Linked DNA regions of Homo sapiens: region 2 is linked to region 1. The links come from fine-mapping of genetic effects on gene expression. Tissue or cell type: whole blood. Region 1 holds a variant in brackets; the other region holds the start of a gene. All regions are shown on one strand. Distances are from middle to middle.

What was found. PIP is the estimated chance that this variant, and not a neighbour inherited with it, causes the effect.
Region 2: it holds the start of UBE3A, and the variant in region 1 is fine-mapped to the expression of UBE3A in whole blood (INTERVAL, PIP above 0.99).

What each region holds. Positions count from the first base shown.
Region 1 is chr15:25,247,046-25,255,045 of GRCh38, reverse strand. SNHG14 (small nucleolar RNA host gene 14) reads right to left here. Exons shown (of 148, transcript NR_146177.1): 134 at 7,758-7,889; 135 at 7,330-7,374; 136 at 5,899-6,032; 137 at 4,235-4,365; 138 at 3,827-3,870; 139 at 2,713-2,821. It overlaps SNORD115-42 (small nucleolar RNA, C/D box 115-42), which reads right to left and starts at 7,701; the gene lies at 7,620-7,701. SNORD115-43 (small nucleolar RNA, C/D box 115-43) reads right to left here and starts at 5,848; the gene lies at 5,767-5,848. It overlaps SNORD115-44 (small nucleolar RNA, C/D box 115-44), which reads right to left and starts at 4,187; the gene lies at 4,106-4,187. The variant G/A (reference allele first, on the strand shown) is at 3,856.
Region 2 is chr15:25,435,928-25,443,927 of GRCh38, reverse strand. It overlaps UBE3A (ubiquitin protein ligase E3A), which reads left to right and starts at 4,904. Exons shown (of 13, transcript NM_130839.5): 1 at 4,904-5,439. RefSeq lists enhancers at 3,897-4,842, 4,843-5,788 and silencers at 4,640-4,979, 5,340-5,759.

The DNA of each region.
Region 1 (8,000 bases):
TATTCTGCAGAGTGCTCTCTGAGCTTCCTGAACATGTGGGTTTCTGTCCATCATTAATTTTAGAAAGTGCTCAAGTCATTGTTGTGTCAAATATTTCTTTTCCTTTATCTCCTTATTCTCCTGACATTGTCACTATGCATTTTTACACTTTTTGAAATGCTTCCAGAGTTCTTGGATATTTTTTACTTTCTCATTCTTTTTTCCCTCTGCATTGCAATTTGGAAATTTGTATTGATATTTCTTCAAGGGAACTAACTCCTCCTACAATATAAGCAAGAGCATTGATGAGCACAAAAAAAGGCACTTATTGTAAATTCTATGCACTGTAAATTCTATACACTGTAAATTCTATACACTGCTGTTGACGTCAAGCCTTTTCTAATGATTCTGTCCTAGAGTTTCCTTCTCCCGACTTACATTACCTACCTGTTATTCCTTGTTACCTACTTTCTACCTTAGAGCACTCAGCATGTAACTCATGTTGTATTAACCCTATCATGTGATTACTGCAACATTTCAGCCAATACCAATCTAATTCTTTAGCTAGATCTTCCACTTCAGAAGGTGTTCTTTAAATTTCTAAGCATTGCAATTTGTATTGAAGGCAAAACATGATATAAGGAGAAACGCAACTGAGACAATCCATTATCGAAAGATTTTATATTTCTTTGAAAAACCATCAATATGATAAGGTCATATCAATGAATTTCTGTGGTTATATCAAAATAAATGTCCTCTGCTGTGCTTGTCTACTTTCTCGTCTTTAGATTTCCATACAATCTGTTTCAGTAAAGTAGGAGATAGGCAGTGCATTCAACTGTAGTCCCCAATTAAAAAAAAAACTGGCAAAAATTATGCACAATCATATAATGTACAGAAAAAAAGCATATTTCTGAACAACTACAATGAGACTGTGTATTCCAACTAAAACACTATCAAATTAGGAAGTAAATAAAAATGAAAAATACCACCACCAATAAAACATTTGCTGCTGCCTTTGTGAAAGTAAAATACACAAAGCGGTAAAAAATACAAAGAGAACACACAAAAAGCACTGAAGAAAATGAAATACAAAGAGCTGCCACAACACCCATCACATAACCTCTCCTCGAGACAAAATAAGGTTCTCATCATCAACCTAACCGAGGGCACCCCCGTCACCGTGCAGGTAACCAGCGGGACCTGGACAAGCTCACCACCGCTCAATGCAGGACACCAGGCTGCCAAGAAAAGCCCAAGCTCCAGCACACCAAGGGCTGTGCACCTGGCTGACAGACACTGTCCTGATGAAAGGTGACAGCGTGCTGGCAGTCCTCACAGCCCTCACTTGCTCTTGGCGCCTCCTCTGCCTGGGCTCCCACTTTGGTGGCACTTGAGGAGCCCTTCAGCCCACTGCTGCACTGTGGGAGCCCCTTTCTGGGCTGGCCAAGGCCGGAGCCTGCTCCCTCAGCTTGCAGGGAGGTGTGGAGGGAGAGGCGCAAGTGGGAACCGGGGCTGCGCGGGGCGCTTGTGGGCCAGCTGGAGTTCCGGGTGGGTGTGGGCTTGGCGGGCCCCACACTCGGAGCAGCGGGCCGGCCCTGCCGGCCCCAGGCAATGAGGGGCTTAGCACCCGGGCCAGCAGCTGCAGAGGGTATACTGGGTCCCCCAGCAGTGCCAGCCCACCGGCGCTGCACTTGATTTCTCACCGGGCCTTAGCTGCCTTCCCTCGGGGCAGGGCTCGGGACCTGCAGCCTGCCATGCCTGAGCCTCCCACCCCCTCCATGGGCTCCTGTGCAGCCAGAGCCTCCCCGACGAGTGCCGCCCCCTGCTCCACGGTGCCCAGTCCCATCAACCACACAAGGGCTGAGGAGTGCGGGCGCATGGCGCAGGACTGGCAGGCAGCTCCACCTGCAGCCCCAGTGCGGGATCCACTGGGTGAAGACAGCTGGGCTCCTGAGTCTGGTGGGGCCTTGGAGAACCTTTATGTCTAGCTCAGGGATTGTAAATACACCAATCGGCACTCTGTATCTAGCTCAAGGTTTGTAAACACACCAATCAGCACCCTGTGTCTAGCTCAGGGTTTGTGAATGCACCAATCGACACTCTGTATCTAGCTTCTCTGGTGGGGCCTTGGAGAACCTTTATGTCTAGCTCAGGGACTGTAAATACACCAATCCGCGCTCTGTATCTGGCTCAAGGTTTGCAAACACACCAATCAGCACTCTGTGTCAAGCTCAGGGTTTGTGAATGCACCAATAGACACTCTGTATCTAGCTACTCCGGTGGGGACTTGGAGAACCTTTGTGTCAACACTCTGTATCTAGCTAATCTAGTGGGGACATGGAGAACCTTTGTGTCTAGCTCAGGGATTGTAAACGCACCAATCAGCGCCCTGTCAAAACAGATCACTCAGCTCTACCAATCAGCAGGATGTGTGTGGGGCCAGATAAGAGAATAAAAGCAGGCTGCCCCAGCCAGCAGTGGCAACCCACTTGGGTCCCCTTCCAAACTGTGGAAGCTTTGTTCTTTCACTCTTTGCAATAAATCTTGCTACTGCTCACTCTTTGGGTCCACACTGCTTTTATGAGCTGTAACACTCACCGCGAAGGTCTGCAGCTTCACTCCTGAAGCCAGCGAGACCACAAACCCACCAGAAGGAAGAAACTCCGAACACATCCGAACATCAGAAGGAACAAACTCCAGACATGCCACCTTAAGAGCTGTAACACTCACAGCGAGGGTCCGCAGCTTCATTCTTGAAGTCAGTGAGACCAAGAACCCACCAATTCCGGACACACTGGGACCAGCGGGCCGAACGCAAGTCCTCCTCCGGGCTCACCACCTGGTGGGACAAGAGGAAGACAGCTGTCCACACAGGGCCTCACAGCTCCATGAGAAGAAGTGGGAAGGGGGCGCTGGCTCACGCATGCTCATCCTCTATGGACCCACGTAATGGGATCCACGTGGAACACTGACCCATCACGGATGCAGGGCACCCTTGGCCCTCCCTGCCACAAAATCCTGGAAAGACAGGGCAAGCAGGTCACTGGGATCAGGCAAGATGCCTGGGCTGCACCCTACTGCAGGCCCCAAGAGCACCTCCACTGCCTGGGCCAGCTCCACTCAACCACCCCAGGGCCACACCAGGACCACGGGGCATGGGCCAGGGCAACCAAGCAGCTGATGGCCAACCAAGGAGGCTGGTCCTGATGCCAGGAGCCAATGCAGACCTGGCAGTCGCAGAGCCTGCCCTTGGGCATGGTGGGTGCCGGCCCTGGTGCCCACTCCAAGCAGGCACTGGAAATCAAAGCCTGGGGGCCTCCAGAGCCACATGCTTTCTATGGTGAGTCCCCATCAACGACTCAACCCCAGGGAAAAAAACACCACCCCCCATCAGGCTCCAGGAGGCCCACTGGAATGGCGTATTTCTCAATGGACAATTCCAATCAGGGCCATGGGTGAGGCACCATCCTTGAATCTCCATGACCCAACCCCAAGGGCAGATTCAAGCACCACACTCCATGGACAAAGAGCTCCCCTCTAACCCCCTCAGATGGCCTGAGAAATCCTCCAGGCCTGACCTGAGCACTGAGTCTCAACAGAACGCTGCGCTGGGTGGGGCTGAAGGAACTCTTTCCTGCCTGGACCACCGTCACTCCTGCAGAGATCAGGGAAGTTATCCTCCTTGGGTCCAATTCCCAAAAAAGCGGCCCTCCTGGAGAACCCATACCTCTCTGATGGGAATTCAGGTTGGTTCCCTGAGGAAACCCTCTTATCCCAAAGGCTGACCCTTGGTGACCCCACATGGACCGGTTCATGGCCCATGACACAAGCAGGATCCACTCACCTATGCCAGTCAATGCCGGGGGCCCGCCC[G/A]GGTGGAAGAGCTCACTGAAAGACACAAGGGGAGAATGGGGGCTCAGGAAGGAGCCACCAACCGGCCCCAACCCCGGGGAACAGGAGCCCGACACCAAGCCCCCTCAGGGAGCCTGGGCTGCCTCCTGGAGGAGCAGAGAGACAGGGTTGGACCTTCCAGATGGCCCTCAGGGCCTGCAGGTGTCCAGCGCAAAATACAGTGGCCATTCCGGGGAGCCCAGTGTCCTCTTCCAAAATTCTCACCTAGGCTGGGCCTCAGCGTAATCCTATTGAGCATGATTTTTAAGTCATCACCGCTCTTCAGGACAATATAAGGTTCTCATCATTGACCCAACCAAGGGCAACCCCCACCCCAAGCATGCATCCATGTGCTCACCACAGCTCAGTGCAGGAGACCAGGGTGCCAGGGAGGGTCCAAACTCCAGAGCACTGGGGGATTAGCACCAGGCTGATGGACACTGGCCTGGGGCCTGTGGGGGTCCAACACAAGTCTTCCTCCAGACTCACCATCTGAAGGGACAGGAGGAGGACATGTGTCCAACCAGGGCCTCACATATCAGTGCAGGGAGGGTGGGTAGGGAATACCCATATGATGGGGATCCATGCAGAACACTGACCCAACATGGGCACAAGGCACCATTGGCCCTCCTGGCCACCAAACCTTAGAAAGACAGGGTAAGTGGGTCACTGGGCTGGGGCAAGATGCCTGGGCTGCACTCTACTGCAGGCCCTGAGAGCACCTTCACGGCCTGGGCCAGCTCCCCTGAACAACCCCAGGGCCACACCAGGACCATGGGGCATGGGCCAGGGCAACCAACCTGCTCCTGGCCAACCAAGGAGCCTTGGCCAATCAGGAACCACATGGTGTCCTCTCCTTTTCTTGGACTCAAGACCCCACTACCCTGGAGGTGACCCCATGGCTCAGAAGCAGCCTGGATGGCAAATTTCCAGGACAGGTCCCTGAGCAGCAGGCCTTCCCACCATAGGAGGCTACCCTTTCCACCACTGGACCTCAAGGAAGGGATGACACCAGCGGGACACAAGCTGCCCCCTTGGCCCAAGGAAGGGCCGGCCTGCAGTACCACCAGGCGCCCAGTCAGAGCTCAGCTTTGACTCAACCTTATTGAAACAGCAACCCACCCCCAACAGGCTCAAGGAGGCGCCATTAAGATGGCCCATTACTCAACAGAGTTGGTCCCATTCAGGGCCAGGGGTGGGGGCATTCCTTGAATCTCCGCCACCTGACTGTGGGCCCAATCACCCACCACTCTTCAGGGAGGGAGAACTCCAGTGTGAGCCCCAGGGAGCCCCAGAGCTTCTGTGTCCCCCATCATGAAGCCTGGGCAGTCCTCAAGGCCTGACGAGCCCACCAAATTTCAGCTGGGAGCTGCTGTATGTTGGGCTGAAGGAACGCTTTCCTGCCTGGACCACCATCACCTTTGCAGGGCTTCAGGAAATGCGTGCTCCTAGGGTCAGATTCCCAAGGAAGTGACCCTACTGGAGCAATGTTCCCTCCCCGGGGGCACCTGGAGAAAACGCTAGTGGCCTGAAGGCTGACCCTCGATGACCCCACACTGCCTCATTTATGGCCCATGACCGCAACAGGATACACTCACCTATACTGCTTAAGGGCATGGGCCCCACCTGGGCAGAAGAGCTCAATAGAAGACACAGGGGAGAACGTGGGCTCAGGAAGGAGCTGCCAACATGCCCTATCCCCAGGAAGCAGAGCCTGGACACCAAGTCAACACAGGGAGCCTGGGCTGCCTCACGGAGGGGCACAGAGACAGGGCTAGGACCCCTGAGATGCCCTTTGGGGCCTCAAGTTCTTCAGTATAAAATACAGTGGCTAGTGGCCCTGCCGGGGATCTTGGCATCCCAGCGCTCCCTTCCAAAATTCTCACCTAGCCTGGGCCTCAGCGTAATCCTATTGAGCATGATTTTTAAGTCATCACCTCTCTTCAGGACAATATAAGGTTCTCATCATTGACCCAATCAAGGCCCTCCCCATGCATGCATCCAGCAGAACCTGGATGTGCTCACCACAGCTCAGTGCAGGAGACCAGGGTGCCAGGGAGGGTCTGAGCTTCAGCGCACTGGGGGATGAGCACCAGGCTGACAGACACTGGCCTGGGGCCTGTAGGGTCCCAATACAAGTCTTCCTCCAGGCTCACCATCTGGGGTGGTGACAGGAGAAGGACATGTGTCCAACCAGGGCCTCACATATGAGCGAGGGGAATGTGGGTAGGGGATACCCATGTGATGGAATCCATGAAGAACACTGACTCATCACAGACACAGGGCACCATTGGCCCTGCTGGCCACCAAACCTTGGAAAGACAGGGAAGGTGGGTCACTGGGCTGGGGCAAGATGCCCTACTGCAGGCCCCAACAGCACCTCCACTGCTCGGGCCGGCTCCCCCGAACAACCCCAGGGCCGCACTGGGACTATGGGGACGGGTGAGGGCAACCAACCTGCTCATGGCCAACCAGCGAGTCTGGCCCTAACACCAGGAGCCAATGCAGACCTGGCCATTGCAGAGCCTACCCTGGGCATGGTGGGTGCCCACCCTGGTGCCCTCTCCAAGCACACACCAGAAATCAAAGCCTGGGGGCCTCCAGGGCCACGTACTTTCTCTGGTGGGTCCTCATCTTGCCCTACACCTCCCACACACAGAGCCAGGTCCCACTTGGTCAATAAGAAACCACATGGTGTCCTCTCCTTTCCTTGGGATCAAGACCCTACCACCCTGGAGGTGACCCCGTGGCTCAGAAGCAGCCTGTGTGGCAAATTCCCAGAACAGGTCCCTCGACAGCAGGACTTCCCACCTCAGGAGGACATCCTTTCGGCCACTGAATCTCAAGGAAGGGGAGACCCCAGAGGGACGTGAGCTGGCCCCTTGTCCCAAAGACCACAACCCCCAGGGCTGCCTGCAGCACCACCAGGCACCAGCCAGAGCTCAGCCTTGATTCAACTGCATTGAAACAGTGCCTCCCCCTACCAGGCTCAAGGAGGTACCACTGAGATGGCCCATTACTCAACAGGGTCGGTCCCATTCAGGGCCATGGATGGGGTGCAGTCCTGAATCTCCGGGGCCTGTCTGCGTGGGCCCAATCACCCACCACTGTCCAGAGAGGGAGAACTCCAGCGTGACCCCCAGGTTGCCCCAGAGCCCCTGTTGCCCACCTCATGTGGCCTGGGCAGTCCTCGAGGCCTGACCAGCCCGCTGAGTTTCAGCTGGGAGCTGCTCTATGTTGGGCTGAAGGAACCCTTTCCTGCCGGGACCACCATCACCTTTGCAGGGCTTCACGAAATGCATGCTCCTAGGGTCAGATTCCCAAGGAAGTGACCCTACTGGAGAAACATTCCCTCCCCGGTCGCACCCTGAGAAAACCCTAGTGGCCCGAAGGCTGACCATAAATGGCCCCATGCTGCCTCATTCATGGCCCATGACCCCAACAGGATACACTCACCTATGCCGCTTAAGGCCATGGGCCTCACCTGGGCAGAAGAGCTCACTGAAAGACATGGGGGAGAAAGCAGGCTCAGGAAGGAGCCACCAACATGCCCCACCCCCAGGGAACCAGAGCCCGGACACCATGCCCACACAGGGAGCCTGGGCTGCCTCATGGAGGGGCACAGAGATAGGGTTGGACCCCCCTGAGATGCCCTTCAGGGCCTCAAGTTCTCCAGCCCAAAATATAGTGGCCCTGCCAGGGATCTCGGGATCCCAGCATCCTCTTCCAAAATTCTCACCTAGGCTGGGCCTCAGCGTAATCCTATTGAGCATGATTTTTAAGTCATCACCTCTCTTCAGAACAATATAAGGTTCTCATCATCGACCCAACTGAGGGGATCAATCACCTCGTGCATGCATCCAGCAGGACCCGGATGTGCTCACCACAGCTCAGTGCAGGAGACCAGGGCGCGAGGAAGGGCCCGAGCTTCAGCGCATCAGGGGCTGGGCAACAGGCTGATGGCCACTGGCCCAGGAACAACAGGCCCAATGCAAGTCTTCCTCCGGTCTCACCATCTGGGAGAGAGGTGGAGAACATGTGTCCAAAGTTACCTCCATGTAGGGAAGGAGGTAGGACGTGCCAGTTCACACTTGCTTATCTTCCACGGACACATGTGATGAGAGCCA
Region 2 (8,000 bases), 190 kb before region 1:
TGATATCTTTGCTTGGATATTAAGACACAAGGTCAGCTGCAGTTAAAGGGATTTAGAATAACCATGGCAGATCATAGAAGTTAGTAGCTGTCTTACATCAGAGTTGACCTGGTACACAGGACCTGCCCAATGAAGTCCTCAGGGCCCCAACTTGTTGCTCTGCAATCCCTAGAATGTTTCCCAGTGTCTTAGTCTTGTTTATGCTGCTGTAACAAAATACCTGAAACTGGGAAATTTGTGAAGAACAGAAATATACTTTTTCACAGTTCTAAAGGCTGGGAAGTACAAGCTCAAGACCCCCAGCAGGTTTAGTGTCTGGTGAGGGCTGCAGTTTCCAAGGTGGGACCTTACTGCTATATCCTCTGGAGGGGGTGAATGCTGTGTCCTCGTGTGGCTAAAGGGATGGAAGGGCAAAAGAAGGCCTAAGCTAGTTCCCTCCAGTCCTTTTACAAGGTATTAATCCATCCATGAGGCAGGGCCCTCATGATTTCATCAGCTGTTAGTATCATCACAATGGGGATTAAGTTTCAACATGAATTTTGAAGGGGACACCATCATTGAAACCACAGCATCTTTCAACATGGTTTACTACCCCAACTATTTAATACATACATTCATCAGAAAAGGACAAAAGAAAGGGCAAGTGACACCCAATTTCTTTTAGAAAATGATCTGGAAGTTGCATACATAATTTCTGCTCACATCCTACTGGCCAGAACTTAAGAGATATGGCCACACTTAAGGGTGTATTATAGGCAACCATGTGTCTGGCTAGATGTTCTATTATCATGGATAAAGAGCAGAATGCATAAGAGTCAGCTAGGAAGCAGTTTGTACAACAGATATCCAACAGGTATCTCAAATTTAACATTACCAAAACTAAATTCCTGCTTGTTCTCCCAAAACCTGCTCCTTTGCACTGTTATCACATCTCAGTCCATGGTGGAAGACAGAACAAACTCAGGGGTTTGATGTTAATCATGTTGAGCTTGAGGTGCCTGTAGAACACCCAGTACAGGTTTCCAATAAGGGGTTGAAGATACTGTGTCTGATGCTTCTGACTGAGATCTGTGTTCAAGATTCAGACTTGATTCCTGACTGAAATAAGTGATAGAAGAGTATACGTAAATGGTACTGTCAAAGATTATAACATGGTAGGCAGAGAACCAAGAATGGGGAGGGAGGATTCTGCACAGGAGACCTGAGAAAGAGTGGCCTAAGACAAGGCAGAAGAGCAGAGAATGTAAGGTGACAGAACCAAGGGAGCAGTTTCCAGGAGGCAGTGGTCAGCAGTGTGGAAGGCTGCAGAGAGATCAGATGTTATGAAAACTGAGAAGCAACCTTTCAATTTGGCCATTATGCCACAGTGAAATTGATACAAGCAATGTATACAGTAAAATGGAGGGAGCTGCTAAATTTCTGTAGTTGAAGAGGAATTTGGAAGGTAATAGCAATCTAAGTATAGACAGCTTTTCTAAATAGAAGGGACAAAGTAGAGGGAGAATTTATGAACAGGAGTGGGAATATTTAAGGGAGTAAGAGTCTTGAGTCAATCTCTCTTCCCTCAAGAAATAAAAATTACCTGTAGAAAGGACAGAAGGATGGCTTCTACCTTAAGACTCGAGGTCAGAAAGAATGCAAATTTAGACAGGTCTGCAGGCATAAGGGTGGGGGTATGTAGGAGTTCATGCCTGATGTGTGCAGTACTAAACAATGATACATATACTACTACTACTACCACTACTAAGCACTAACATTTACTGAGCACTTATCATATGCCAGTGTTCTTCATGGAGCTAAGTTTGCTTAACAGTATTTCTTAAATAATGGGAGCTATTCATATATTGAAAGCTTAGTGTTTTTCAGAAGTTGAGTGTGTAACATTTGGATGTGGCCTAAAAATAGCAACCGTGACTTCTATCCCACCATATCTGAATTTTGTCTCTTCCATGCTCGACTTATTTCTGATCCTGGGGCATGCTGAGTAGTAAAAAAAGTTGTTCTTGCATTTTGATTCATCTGTTATGACTGGCATCAATAAGAAATCTTCAGCAATAAAACAGCTCTGTCAAAAAACAACTTCACCAGCAATTTAGGGCAAAATGTTTCCTTTAAAAAAAAGTTTGTTGGCTGGGCATGGTGGATCATGCCTGTAATCCCAGCACTTTGGGAGGCCGAGGCGGGCGGATCACGAGGTCAGGAGATCGAGCCCATCCTGGCTAACACGGTGAAACCCCGTCTCTACTAAAAATACAAAAAATTAGCCAGGCGTGGTGGCGGGTGCCTGTAGTCCCAGCTACTTGGGAGGCTGAGGCAGGAGAATGGCATGAACCTGGGAGGTGGAGCTTGCAATGAGCCAAGATTGCGCCACTGCACTCCAGCATGGGCGACGGAGCAAGACTCTGTCTCAAAAAAATAATAATAATAATAAAATAAAAAGTTTGTTAGTATTAGCAGATACATATTACTAGGTACCCCCCATGCTCAATGAAGTGTTGGGTTACTCTGAAAAAGTGTCCAATCTTACAGGTGTGACTTCCTCTGGAACTGCAAGTTCTTGAGGGCAGGGATAGAGATTGTTCATCTTTTATTGTTTCCCAAGGTCTGGCACATAAATAGTAGTTCAAGTAGTCCAACATATGACACATAAATAGTTCTGGGTAAACATTAGCTCAAAGTTTGCTCAAGGCATTGATGCAGATGCTTATAAAATTAAATTGCTCTTTTTACTGTATACCTGAAATGAGAAAATTATTAGAAACTACTGGGTCTCATTTGGACTAGAAAAGTCTGAAGAAATCACTGTTCACTTAGTAGATACAAAGTTGTTTTTCTGGGAAAAACACACCTAAAAAAAAAAAAACACATGGGTCTGATATGGGAGAATTTTTTTATTTTTCATATAAACAGGTGTATAGGGAAGTGGAACACTGCTAGTATCTTAAGGATTCCTGAAAGTATTTATGTTGGTAAGTTTGATGAGCAAACATTTCTAAATTTGAAAATGGATAAAACAAAAAGCACAGTGAAATCTTGAAAGAATTCTAATACTAATGTCACACATAAGAATACAGATTTAAAATTAATGAACTAAAACGGATATACGTAATTTCTCCAGGAGGAATTAAGATCCTCCTTGATCTCAGTAAAGCAATGAATAGTCATTCTGACATCTAGCTAAAAGCAGACTTATTTCCCTTCGGTCTTTAATCTTTTTGGAACTCAGGGATTTCCGCCACACTTTGATACACCAGGCCATTATAAAATTACACTTAATTTATTGTCAATTTCTACTTAAAAGGAAGAATACCTATAAGTATCTCCATATGCTAGATATAGTAGAAATGGTATGCTTTAATTAGTCCAACAATAAAGTCCTTAAAGATTTACATTCTTTGTTGCCTATTTTGAAAACTTGCGAAGATAAATTTTTTTAAAGATTATAATTCTTACTAGTCCTTTCCATGAAATATAACAGCAAATAGTTTCCAAATGTGGATGTGTAATGAGAGGAAATGAAAAGTGAGTAAAGAGCTGAGTTAAAACATCTTAAAATCGAATATGGCTTAATACTATCATTATCATCAGTTGTCCTGGAATAACTTAAATTCTTCTAGCTTATTGTTGGTTTTTCAATGGTTGGTTATAGTTGTGAGGCGGATACACACACACACCCACACACTTGGCTATACAAAAAAGATGTTCCGAGACTGACAGTTAAAAATTACACTGCTGGCCGAGCACTGTGGCTCATGCCTGTAGTCCCAAAACTTTGGGAGGCCGAGGTGGGAGGATCACTTGAGGCCAGGAGCTCGAGACCAGCCTGGGCCTAACATAGCAAGACACCATTTCTAAGTTTAAAAATAAAAATAAATTTAAAAAAGATACACTGCTATGTACGACTGTTGATATAAAAAATCTGAATACTAGACATGGGTACTCATCTAGTACTTCAAGGGCTTATCAACAAAGTTGCAAGTTGTAACACTATGAATTGTTAGTGATACTCTTTTGGCTTTGCTAGCAAGTGTTGTAAAGCTATACACACACACACACACACACACACACATACACACACACACCTTTTAAAATGGTGACCCTGGTACCAAATATGACTTTAAATGGATTTAATTTTAATGGCTTTAACTACGTTCAGCTGTCATATGGATCAAAATTAGCCTCTATCCAGCTGGGGTCAACCAGGGAGCCACTTTTCTTAACCGACGACCTACTGAACGTCAACAACTGCAGGAGACGGGACTTTACCTTCGTCTCTGGTAAACTAGTTGACACATCCTGTGTTGGCAAGAGGCCTAAGTAGATGACCTTGGTCCTCTAAAATCTGGCCTGCACTCTCGGGGCACCCCTGCAACATCTACAAAGGCAGCTCCAGATAGAAAAGGGTTGGGGTCGAAAAGCCAATAACGGCAGGCACCTGCCCCGCCTCGGGGCTGGGGGGCTATTCCAGCGGCTTCAGCTAACTTTCAGAGCCATTCGTTTCCCAACAAAGTCTGAGGCGTTCCTCTGCTGGGTACACCAAGGGGCTCTGCAACCCTCCTGGGGGGGGGGGTGCCCAGAGGGCTTCCGGAAGTCCCAGGTTTATTCTTTCGGGTCACAGACAGCAGAAACTAAAAAGAGGGATTACCCTTTCTGTCCAGTCGCAAGATGGCGACCGAGCCTGGTGGGACTCCGAGGGGCCGCAGGCCACCTCCTCTTCCCAATGGCCCGTGCGCCGGCGGCGACGGCAAGCGGGAGGGAGGCGGGGCCGGCGAAGGAAGGAGGGGCGGAGCGCGGCGCCCTCCCGCGCGTCTTGGCCCCGCCCCACGTCCCCGCGTCCCGGCCTGGAGCCCTCGCCCGGCCGGGCGGCGCGCGCTGCCTGCCGGGATACTCGGCCCGCCCAGCCAGTCCTCCCGTCTTGCGCCGCGGCCGCGAGATCCGTGTGTCTCCCAAGATGGTGGCGCTGGGCTCGGGGTGACTACAGGAGACGACGGGGCCTTTTCCCTTCGCCAGGACCCGACACACCAGGCTTCGCTCGCTCGCGCACCCCTCCGCCGCGTAGCCATCCGCCAGCGCGGGCGCCCGCCATCCGCCGCCTACTTACGCTTCACCTCTGCCGACCCGGCGCGCTCGGCTGCGGGCGGCGGCGCCTCCTTCGGCTCCTCCTCGGAATAGCTCGCGGCCTGTAGCCCCTGGCAGGAGGGCCCCTCAGCCCCCCGGTGTGGACAGGCAGCGGCGGCTGGCGACGAACGCCGGGATTTCGGCGGCCCCGGCGCTCCCTTTCCCGGCCTCGTTTTCCGGATAAGGAAGCGCGGGTCCCGCATGAGCCCCGGCGGTGGCGGCAGCGAAAGAGAACGAGGCGGTGGCGGGCGGAGGCGGCGGGCGAGGGCGACTACGACCAGTGAGGCGGCCGCCGCAGCCCAGGCGCGGGGGCGACGACAGGTCAGTGTTGCCGCGGCCTGCGCCAGGCGGCGCTGGCTCCCCTCCGTCACTCGGCCGGCCTTCGGGGCCCGCTGTGGCGAGGTCGACACCCCCCTTCCCCGCCCCCCGCCGCCGAGGCGAGTGTTTGGGGGCGCGTGGTCCGAAGGGGCTGGTGCCAGAAGTAGGCCCCTGGTGGCCGCGGCTGCTGCAGCCGTAACTGTCAGTCCTGGCTGAGCGACGGCGGGAGGGTTTTGTCGCCCGAGGGGACGCGAGCGGGCCCGGGGCGGGGCGGGACGTGCGAGGCGTCGAGATTTGGGCCTCCTAGGAGCCAGGCTCTTCGAGCCAGCCGGGGCCCCAGACAGGGAAGGGCAGGCCCTTTCCTTCAAAGGGGAGCCCTTTCTCGGCGTTTTCAAGGTTTTTGGCTCTCTTGGGGAAGACATATTTAGCCGTGTGCTTGGTGGGTTGGGGTTTTGGGGGTGGATTGATGGGAAGGGAGGGCGGATGAAGTGGTATGTCAAGCCCAAGGGTTGTGCGCACAGGTTACTCTGTGTTACCGGCCACCAGGATTTCTGAAGTTGAACGTGAGTTATTGGCTTTGCCAGAGACTGCTGTGTTATATGCAGACCTGTATGCAAGCAGTTGGCCTTTTTTCCCCCCCCTTTTCAGTGTAGAAAATGAAAAGGATGCTTTCCTCATCTTGGTGGTAAAGGCTTTTGTTGGTAAAGGTAGAATTGAATGTACCAAATGCCTTAGTCCGTAAAATTTTAGAAATAATTTTAATACAGACACTGGTGAAGCTTGGCAACCTTGAAAGAGAATTTAGCGTCTACATTTTTTAAATGACTTTTTATGGATATGCTAAATTAGTAACAGTCCAAAATCTGTTTGAGATTATTAAGTGGCGAGGGTGCTGTTGAAAATGTAAACTAATAGCATATGGGGTTTACAGTGCACAGTTAACCTCAATCATGAAGAAATGTGGATATGACCCGTAATTTTGGATCATTTTACTGCCTGCAATATTGAGAGAAGCAGCAAATTATTACAGTTTTTTTTGGGAGACGACCTAAAGTTTAAGAAATACAACTGTTGAAAGTTACCTGTCAGAGACACAAAGGTACCCAATCAATCTTGTTGAATAAATTGGACAAGTGGGATAAGGTGTTTGTCTCACACTTCTGATCAATAAGTACTCTTACTTAAGAAGTGATTTGGTAAATCATGTAAAATTTAGAATTTAGGAGAGATAAGAAAGTTGTAACTTGGTGTGTATAGTGGAAATAGCTTTGAAATTAGATCCTGTTTTTAAATCCAAGCTACTTACCACATTTTTAGTGAAATGAATACATTATTAATGATGCTACTGATAAGCCCTAAGGATGACCAGAAGCCCTTTTAAGAAACACTAATACAGTTGACCAAAAAATAAAAAAGGAAATAGCTTCAAGAAATAATTTTCAATCTTTGTGTATTTATAATATACACAGGAGAAATAAAAGAACAGAATATGAAGAGGTAACTTATAATCTTTACAAAATTAGAATGTAAACTATGCTAGTCTTACTGTGTCAATATTTATTAACCTGCATTAGTTTGCTAAGTAGTATGCTCACTATCCTCTGGACATTGCCCCTGTCCCTGAGGAGCTTAACTTTATACAGAGATACAAAATACTGTGTTTTGATTTCCTTTCAGAGGATTTATAAGCTACTTATGTTTTATCTGTCCTAAATTCTGCCCTTTTTTTTCCCATGGCTGAAAAAATAACTTCCTAAGAAAGGTACATACTAGTCAGAGGTGTGGGGAAAACGTGTTCTCATCCCACTTGTGCAGTCCATTTAACAGGATTTATTGGGTACCTACAGTGTCTTTGACATGTAACATTTAATCAGTTGTATTTCTTAAACTTTAGATAATTTCTATTTCGATCATTTCTATTTCAATCTCCTCCCTCTCCCCTCCAAAAAAATTTACTGTGTAAACTGTGATAATACACTGTTTCTCTCAGTGTCAGTCAGTGGAATGATCCAGATTTATAGGTCATAGCAAAATTTTTCATCCCAAGCTCTTGAAATGATGTTTCCAAATGTCCATTTTCTTAAATGACTGCTAGTTATGTTCTCCAATCATGTTACACATATTTTGTTTAGACTTATAATTGTGTAGGTCTAAATGTAGAAACATTACATTATGTACATATGCAGCTGCTGAAAGAAAATTAGTTTTCTAATTTTTAGATCGGGGTGAAGACAAACTTTTAGAAGTGATCTTTCGGTAAAATACTGGATGAAGTCTTAGGTGCTCTTTTTATGTTGGTTCAGGACAAAAGTTTTTTGACTGCTTTTTGAGTTTTCCCCTCACTGCCAAATGTAAGGATAAAATGTAGTAACAAGACATCTTGGTATGTATAGTGGTAATATCTTTGGAATTAGACCCTAATTTTAATTCTGGCCTTATTAATCTTGGTAAGCCACAGTTTTGTCATCTGTAAAATGGGTTGGTGAAACTTCCCCAGAGTTGTGAGGCTTAAAGTATGTAAAACGCCTAACACGTAGGCACTCAATAAGTATTACCTTAGAAAT